2 linked regions of the Homo sapiens genome follow. The protein of the gene in region 2 purifies or fractionates together with the protein of the main gene of each other region. This does not show direct contact. Each region holds a gene or a part of one and is shown on either strand. Other genes may lie near its edges. The genes, in order: BLVRA and ASIC5.

Evidence for each region.
Region 1: the proteins of ASIC5 (region 2) and BLVRA purify together in Homo sapiens (affinity purification with mass spectrometry; one large-scale study listed by BioGRID and IntAct). This does not show direct contact.

The regions. Positions count from the first base shown.
Region 1 is NC_000007.14:43,803,433-43,807,912, reverse strand, and holds the end of BLVRA (biliverdin reductase A), read right to left. Parts: intron 4,238-4,480; coding exon 4,066-4,237; intron 937-4,065; coding exon 678-936; 3' UTR 571-677; downstream 1-570. UniProt on the Homo sapiens protein: Reduces the gamma-methene bridge of the open tetrapyrrole, biliverdin IXalpha, to bilirubin with the concomitant oxidation of a NADH or NADPH cofactor. Does not reduce bilirubin IXbeta.
Region 2 is NC_000004.12:155,838,487-155,842,303, reverse strand, and holds part of ASIC5 (bile acid-sensitive ion channel), read left to right. Parts: coding exon 1-97; intron 98-3,434; coding exon 3,435-3,491; intron 3,492-3,817. UniProt on the Homo sapiens protein: Forms bile acid-gated sodium channels and may play a role in bile acid-dependent absorption and secretion by epithelial cells of the bile ducts. Displays high selectivity for sodium ions but can also permit the permeation of other cations.

The sequences.
Region 1 (4,480 bases), on a different chromosome or scaffold from region 2:
AGGGTAGATAGGGCAGCTGAGAACACGAGAGCAGAAGGGCGGTGACTCTATCATCTCGGAGGGTTCTGTTCAAACAACATTTTCTAGTATACAATGAAAAGAGACCTGGTGCCAGGCATGGTGGCTCATGCCTCTAATCCCAGCACTTTGGGAGGCCGAGGCAGGTGGATTACCTGAGGTTGGGAGTTCGAGCGAGACCAGGCTGGCTAACGTGGCGAAACCTCATCTCTACTAAAACTACAAAAATTAGCCAGGATTAGGCACGCGCCTGTAATCCTCAGCTCCTTGGGAGACTGAGGCAGGATAACTGATTGAACCCAGGAGGTGGAAGCTGCAGTGAACCGAGATGGTGCCACTACACTCCATCCTGGGTGACACAGTGAGACTCTCAAAAAAAAAAAAAAAAAAAAAAGAGGCCTGCTAGTACTCATCTCATAGGGCTGTTAGGAGGAGTAAGTGAAATCAGACATACAAAGCATTTAGCTCAGCTCAACCAACGCTCATTCTCGCCTTGTCCCCACTGCATAGCCCCTAACCCCAAATATCCCAACATAGCTCATAACAATAAGATTCTTGTTTCCCCAACATGTTTAATTTTAAGAATAGAGATAATGGTCAACTCTTGAGAAGAACCAAATGCTGGTGCCATCTTGGAAGTGCTACATCACCTCCTCCTCTTACTTCCTTGAACAGCAATATTTCTGGATTTCTTCTGCAAGCCCCAGGCAGTGCAGGATGCGTTTCTTTTCAGCAGCCAGTTCCTTCTCAGAGAACTGGCCCAAGAGTTTCTGGACAAATATATTTTGATCTTTCAGAAATATGTTCTTATTCACTCCTACATTTGGCACATTCTCCAAGGACCCAGACTTGAAATGGAAGCTTAAATATCTGTTTCGTTTTAGACCAGGTCCTTTTTCTTCAATCCATGACAGTGGACTGCAAAGACAAAAGACAAAAGAATCATGTTAGAGATTACACAAGAGCACAAGTGGGTGCTTGCTGGCACCAGACCGCCTGGTAACATGTCCTTGTCAGGCACCCATCCTCCTTGCAGCCACCAGCCTCCCAGAGGCTGTGGGTGACTGTGTCAACCTCACAGCCAAACAGTCTTTAATTTAATTTTGCCATCAGGCAGGGGAATTCATTCAGTGACTTTTTTTTTTCTGGGATGGAGCCTTGCTCTGTCACCCAGGCTGGAGTGCAGTGGTGCAATCTCGACCCACTGCAACCTCTGCCTTCTGGGTTCAAGCAATTTTCCTGCCTCAGCCTCCCAAGTAGCTGGGATTACAGGCGCCTGCCACCATGCCTGGCTACTTTTTAAAAAAATATTTTTAGTAGAAATGGGGTTTTGCCATGTCAGCCAGGCTAGTCTTGAATTCCTGACCTCAAGAGACCCACCTGCCTTGGCCTCCCAAACTGCTGGGATTACAGGCGTGAGCCACTGCACCTGGCCTCCCATGACTAGTTTTAAAAGCTCATAGTACAGTCTAGCAAATGTTCTGGGAGATGGCAACAAAGATTAACTTTTATTTTGGCACTGAATAAAAATAAACTTGAGGTATTCTACGTAGTCTGCCTAAGAAAATTTCTCATGTCTTTTTTTTGAGATGTTTGCTCTTGTTGCCCAGGCTGGAGTGCAGTGGTGCAATCTCGGCTCACTGCAACCTCTGCCTCCAGGTTCAAACGATTCTCCTGCCTCAGGCTCCCCAGTACCTGGGATTACAGGCACCTGCCACCACGCCTGGCTAATTTTTGTATTTTTAGTAGAGACAAGGTTTCACCATGTTGGCCAAGCTGGTCTTGAACTCTCAACTTCAGGTGATCCAACTGCCTTAGCCTCCCAAAGTGCTGGGATTACAGGCGTGAGCCATTGTGCCCGGCCTCTCATGTCCTTTTAAATAATATGGAATCTTGGGATTTGAGGGAATGCAGAATGTCAAGATCTTTCTTGTACCTCAATTTCCTCACTAGTAAAAATAAGTAATGGTAATAAGTATACAGCTTTACCTATCTTGCTGTGACATTGTGAGATAAAAATGCAGTTTGTGGCCAGGCGTGGAGGCTGATGTGGGTGGATCGCTTGAGCCCAGGAATTTGAGACCGGCCTAGACAGTATAGCAAAAACCCATCTTACCCAAAAATACGAAAATCAGCCAGTCTCATAACCCGGTCTCAAAATAAATAAATAAATAGATAAAAAAATTTAAAAATGCAATTTGGGACACGGAAAGTACTATGATTTTAAGAAGTTACTATTATATTATATTAACTGCTCTCTGTCCCAATCCCTCATCTGATGCTTGCCTCTCCTGTGCAAAAATGAGAGCCAGGGCTGGGTGCAGTGGCTCATGCGTGTAATCTCAGCATTTTGAGAGGCCAAGGTGAGCAGATCACTTGAGGTCAGGAGTTCAAGACCATCCTGACCAACATGGTGAAACCTTGTCTCTACTAACAATACAAAAATGAGCCGGGCGTGGTGGCAGGCGCCTATAATCCCAGCTACTCGGGAGGCTGAGGCAGGACAATCACTTGAACCCGGGAGATGGAGGTTGCAGTGAGCTGAGATCACACCACCGCACTCCAGCCTGGGTGACAGAGCAAGACTTTGTCTCATAAAAAAAAAAAAAAAAGAGAGAGAGAGTCAGCCTCTGCCTCCCCAACATCTTGCTTCCTCATTGACTTCTACTCAACTTCAAGACCAAACAAGGCACCGCCTCCCATCAGAACCATGAGCTGACCTAGTCCAGGTTCCCCTTCCCTGTGCTCCTACAGCACCCTACAGTATCTTTACCTCTAATTACAGGGTGCTACAACTGTCTGTGTATAGGTCTGACCACGGCTGCAATCCTAACACTCACATGGCCACACCAGAGCCCGGGCCACCACTGTTGGTCACTCCATAGGGAGCACTGCCAAGTTCCATGTGCTTTGCTTTCATCTGCCAGGCCTCTCTGCCTTTTCCTAGCGAAGAAGAAACTCCTCAAAATGGACTAGATCAGGCTTCATTCAGGAACTCAAATTCTTTTTTCTTTTTAAAATACCCAGTGTCTGCTTCTTTTACTACCAGGAGACCCACCTCTCTGCAAAGGCATCCAGAAACACTCTAAAACCCTTACTGTTCTAAATAATTTACAGAGCCCAGGTGCTTTGGGAGGAAAATTATGAATGTGCTTTTGTTAAAAAAGACCTGGTATGAGAAATAAGTCAGAATGTTTTGGGAACAGTGTGACAGGGTGATGGGATGCTAAAGCTGAAACACAGACCCTCACACTCTGGCTGCACTGAGGGGTGAATGTGTGGCCCTGCGGGGAACATGTACAGTGTTAATGGCAGGGTCTAGGGAGTAGGTGGATGGGTGTTTACTTAAAAATTCTTTCAACTTCACAATATGCCCGAAAACTTTCATAAGAAAACACAGGAAAAAAATCAGGTCACAGAGTTAACATAATTTCTTTTTCTTTTCTTTTTTTTCAAGAAGGAGTCTCGCTCTGTTGCCCAGGCTGAAATGCAGTGGCCTGATCTCAGCTCACTGCAACCTCTGCCTCCCAGGTTCAAGCAATTCTCCTGCCTCAGCCTGCCAAGGAGCTGGGACTGCAGGCATGCACCGCCACACCGGCTAATTTTTGCATTTTTAGTAGAGACAGGGTTTCACCATGTTAGCCAGGCTGGTCTCAAACTCCTGACCTCAGGTGATCCACCACCCTTGGCCTCCCCAAGTGCTGGGATTATAGGCCTGAGCCACCACGCCCAGCCAAGGTAATGTAATTTCCACTACTAATCTGCTATGAATGACTTGCATGACTTAGGCAACCTGCTGGCATTCTGTAAGCCTCTGTCTACTGACTGGCAGATGGGATTATGTTTGTCTTCTTTACCTCACAGGGCTGCTGAGAGGATGAGATGAGGCAACACAAGTGCAATCTCAGCACTCCATCTGCAGAAGCAGACAGCCCTTCTGGAGCTGGGAGTGAGGGTCTAGCCCCTCGGGGCTCCCTTTGGATCATACCTGCAAATGTACTAGGATGTCCTTAAATTTCCTCCTCCTCATGGCTTCTCATGACTTACCTTTTCTTCTCTGTCTCCAGACACACTGTCATTTTCATATACTGATCTTCCTTTCGCTCTTCCAAAGTGGCAGACACAAGAGAAAGCTCCCCAAAGAGGGAGACCAGCCAGGTCAGGCGAGAGATGCCGCTGAATGCAGGGAAGCCAAACCGCTCTTCTTCCAACGGGCCAGCTGTGGGAAATCACAAATGCTGTGGGAACTGGGAAGCAGGAATGCCAAGTGGAAAGCAGGACAGGGGGGTGGGGGTGGCGGGGGTGTGAAAAGATGTGGCCGAGTGATCAGTACAATGGGACCTTGCCTTATGTGGTAGGCAGGCAACGTGATTAATGATACTGATGAAAACTCAGGTGGCTGAACTTCAACTCTATCATAAAAGCATCTCTGTCTTTTCCTGTTTATTAAATTGAGTTTTAG
Region 2 (3,817 bases):
CAGAATTTTAGCAGCTACAGCACTTCTGGTTGCTTGAAGGAATGCAAAGCCCAGCACATAAAAAAGCAATGTGGATGTGTGCCTTTTCTTCTTCCTGGTAAATAAAGACTAACTGCCCCCTTACTTAACTAGACAGTTAAGTGTTTCTTAGAGGGTTACAAAAGGTCTGGGAGAAATAGAGTATTGAAATACAAATGGAATATTAAGTATTATTAAGTGTAATTACAGATGTTGCTGACCCATTCACAGAAAAATTATTATATTCTTAAGCCTGTTCCTTCTCTTTGCAGACTAAAATGACAACTAATAACAAAGTCACCAGAAGTTTAGTCCTAAATTTCTTTGAATTTTATGTTTATATTTACTTAATTTGAAACATAGCAAATCAACATATCACTAAATTGTTTTCCATTCTTCTGAAATTCTACACTGGAAAATTATCCATTTGCCAGGTACAACTTCGACTGACAAATTTTACATTATAAAATCATCGCAGAGATTTCTGGAAGAGAAAATTGCGATATCAGGGTGGGGCCCCAATACTTACTCCCAAAGGCTAAAATTTGATGGTCTCAAATATCTAAAACAGCACACCAAGATTTTCTTAATTTTGAAAGAAAAATTAGATCATGGATATGTCTTACCAAGCCTGAAGATTTCACTGTTGAAAAGTTATTTTCTTTGGGACTGTAAAATTAACTTCAGGCCTCCTTTTCATACAATTTGCAACTTTTCCAGAACCATGGGTGAGAGGCAAGCATTCAAGGAAGCAATGGAGCAGGGTGAATAAGAGCTGGATCTCAACCAGGCTGCTCATGTCGGCTCTACAATTTCTCCCCTAGGTGATCTTGAACAAGTGACCTAACCTCTCTCCTCTGCTGTCAAATGGAGGAGGGGATAATAATCCCATCTTATAGGGTTGTTGTAAGAATGAAAGGGGTATGTAAGTGGTTCAAATAGTGCCTGGCACAGAATATAGTCTATGTAAATGTCAGATATTTGTATTCAGGTCTCTTACATCCCCCTCCCACAGCATATCTAGAAAGATATATTGTAACACAATCTACCTGCCAAAATATTGTAACTGCCCAACGGGCTCACCATGCCTGCTGCCTAGACAGAGCTGATTTATCAAGACAAAGGAATTGCAATAGAGAAAAACTAATTCATGCAGAGCTGGCTGTGCGGGAGATTGGAGTTTTATTATGACTCAAATCAGTCTCCCTGAGTATTCGGAGATAAGAGTTTTTAAGGATAATTTGGTGGGTAGGGGACCAGTGAACCAGTGAATCAGGGGTTCTGATTGGTGAGATCAGAGATGAAATCATGTGGAGTTGAAGCTGTCTTTTTGCGCTGAGTCAATTCCTGGGTAGGGGTCACAAAACCAGATGGGCCAGATTTTTGTTCTGGGTGGTGCCAGCTGATCATTGGAGGCAGGGTCTGCAACATATCTCAAGCACTGATCTTAGCTTTTACAATAGTAATGTTATCACTATAAGCAATTTGGGGCGGTTTAGAATCTTGCACCCTCCAGCTGCATGACCCCTAAACATAATTTCTAATCTTGTGGCTAATTTGTTAGCCCTATATAGGCAATCTAGTCCCCAGGCAGGAAGGGAGTTTATTTTGGGAAAGGGCTGTTATTGTCTTTGTTTCAGAGCTAAACCATAAACTAAGTTCCTCCCAAAGTTAGTTCAGCGAACGCCCAAGAATGAACAAGGACAGCTTGGAGGTTAGAAACAAGATGGAGTCAGTTAGGTCAAATCTCTTTCAATGTAATAATAAAAGTAAAAAATATATAAAATATAAATATAAAATATGTATAAATATAAAATATATATAAAATATAAAAAATATATATTATATTATATATAATATAAAAAATAATAAAAGTAAAAAAGATATAAATTTTGCAAAAGTGGTTTCATTATTTTCCAGAGGTTTCCATAATCATCACATCCTTCTTTTTAGTATCCAGATTATTGATCTCTGGCCACTGCAAAAACTGCTGTTCTATATAAAACTGCTGGCTCTGGCTCTGATTTCTCATTCCTAATTTATTGGCAAAGTTGCTGGAAAGAAGTCTGAATTGTTTCATGCAGAATAATGTTGACAATTTTAAAAGTTATGATTATTAAACCAAAACCTACTGGCTAATGTGGACCAGAAACTAGGCAAGGTGCTATATAAAACACAAAGAATGATATCTGCATGAACTTTAGCATATATATCAAATGCATTCAGGAATATGATCTTATTTGGTTAGATTCTCACACATCCCTTTAAGTGTACTGATATATGAATAAACGGAAGATTCTAAACGTTAAACAAATTCGCTGAGGTAATTCCACTAACAATTTGAGGAAGCAATCTCCAAAACAGCTTTTCAGATATTGGTTATTTCCAAAATTTCATTGTTCTTTTGTTTGTTTGTTTTTATTTTTGTTTTCTGTGTTCCATCTACCATCTTTTTTTTCTGAATTGCTCTTTATAATGGAAGAAATATTATTGCCAGAGCAAGAAATAATTCAGAAAAATGAGGTTTTTTCCTAACTCAGTGTTGGAGGTAGTTTTTTTTTTTTACTTATTGTATTTTATTCATAAAGAGCACTTCCTTACAGTTAGCCAAACATTCCACAAATTGTCCGCACGTTGTAAGTGGACAATCTCCTTTGGTTATTTTCAAGATTACTGACTAAACATTGTGGCTAACTGCTGAGTCACATGGGCTATAGCAATAGACAAATATTGTATTAAGGCTAAAAGACTAAGTCTTTAGAATCAGCCGTAGGAGTAAACCCAGCTCTGATACATAGTGATTTTCTACTTATCTCACAATCTATAGTGGGTACTTAACAAATATTGGTACTTACCTGCCCCCTCCCCATCCTACTTCTGGAATGGCAGTCTGTCAGGAACGTGTGTGTGTGTGTGTGTGTGTGTGTGTGTGTGTGTAAATGGATAGAGGGAGCAGGATGGAAGATGTACAGAATGTGCCAAGTTTCCCCTAACTGTGTGGTCTTGAGCAAGCCACTCTTTCTGAGGCTTAGTTTCTTTATCTGTAAAATGAAAATTCTCATATGACAGGATTGTGAACCATATCAAATGAGATGATAACTGTGAAAGTAATTTTAAATTTGAAAACTACTCACATTTGAAAATTATTATTCCCGCTTAAAGATTTTAGAGTGATATAGACAGATGGAAAGAGGTATGGAAAGAAACAAAAGCATTATTCTTCCTCCCAACACATATTTTCACTGGATACTAACTTGATTCCATAGTTTTGCTTATGAAAGAATAGATGTTCATATAGAAGAATGGGTGGGTGGATGAATGGATGGATAGATGTAGGTAAGAAAGGTATTTTTGTCATTAGATCACTTATTTTACAAAATGTAAAGTCTCTATATGTTACACTTATTATTTTTAAGGATATGGGATAGAATGTGACCTACAAAAGTACTTCAGCTGTGTTTCTCCTGTACTTGGTAAGTGCTTAATTTACTTTTATTTTCAGGATTTATATTAAAGTTGCTCAAAGTAATATAAGACATTAAGTCAAACTATGGATAGCCCAGAAATTAAACAGAATATAGTATATAAGAGAAGATCTTTTTGTAAGTGTTCTTAAATAGTAGCTAACAAACACAGGCAGTATACACAAACAAAAACCCTCTGATATTAAGACACATCTAAATTTTTAAATTTTGTTCTTTTTTATAATCAAAATATCCTAGCTGCTTTTTATTGTTTCACAAATAAAACAAGTTTATTGTGAATAGTTAAAATACTACAGAATAGAAAGGAAATCATG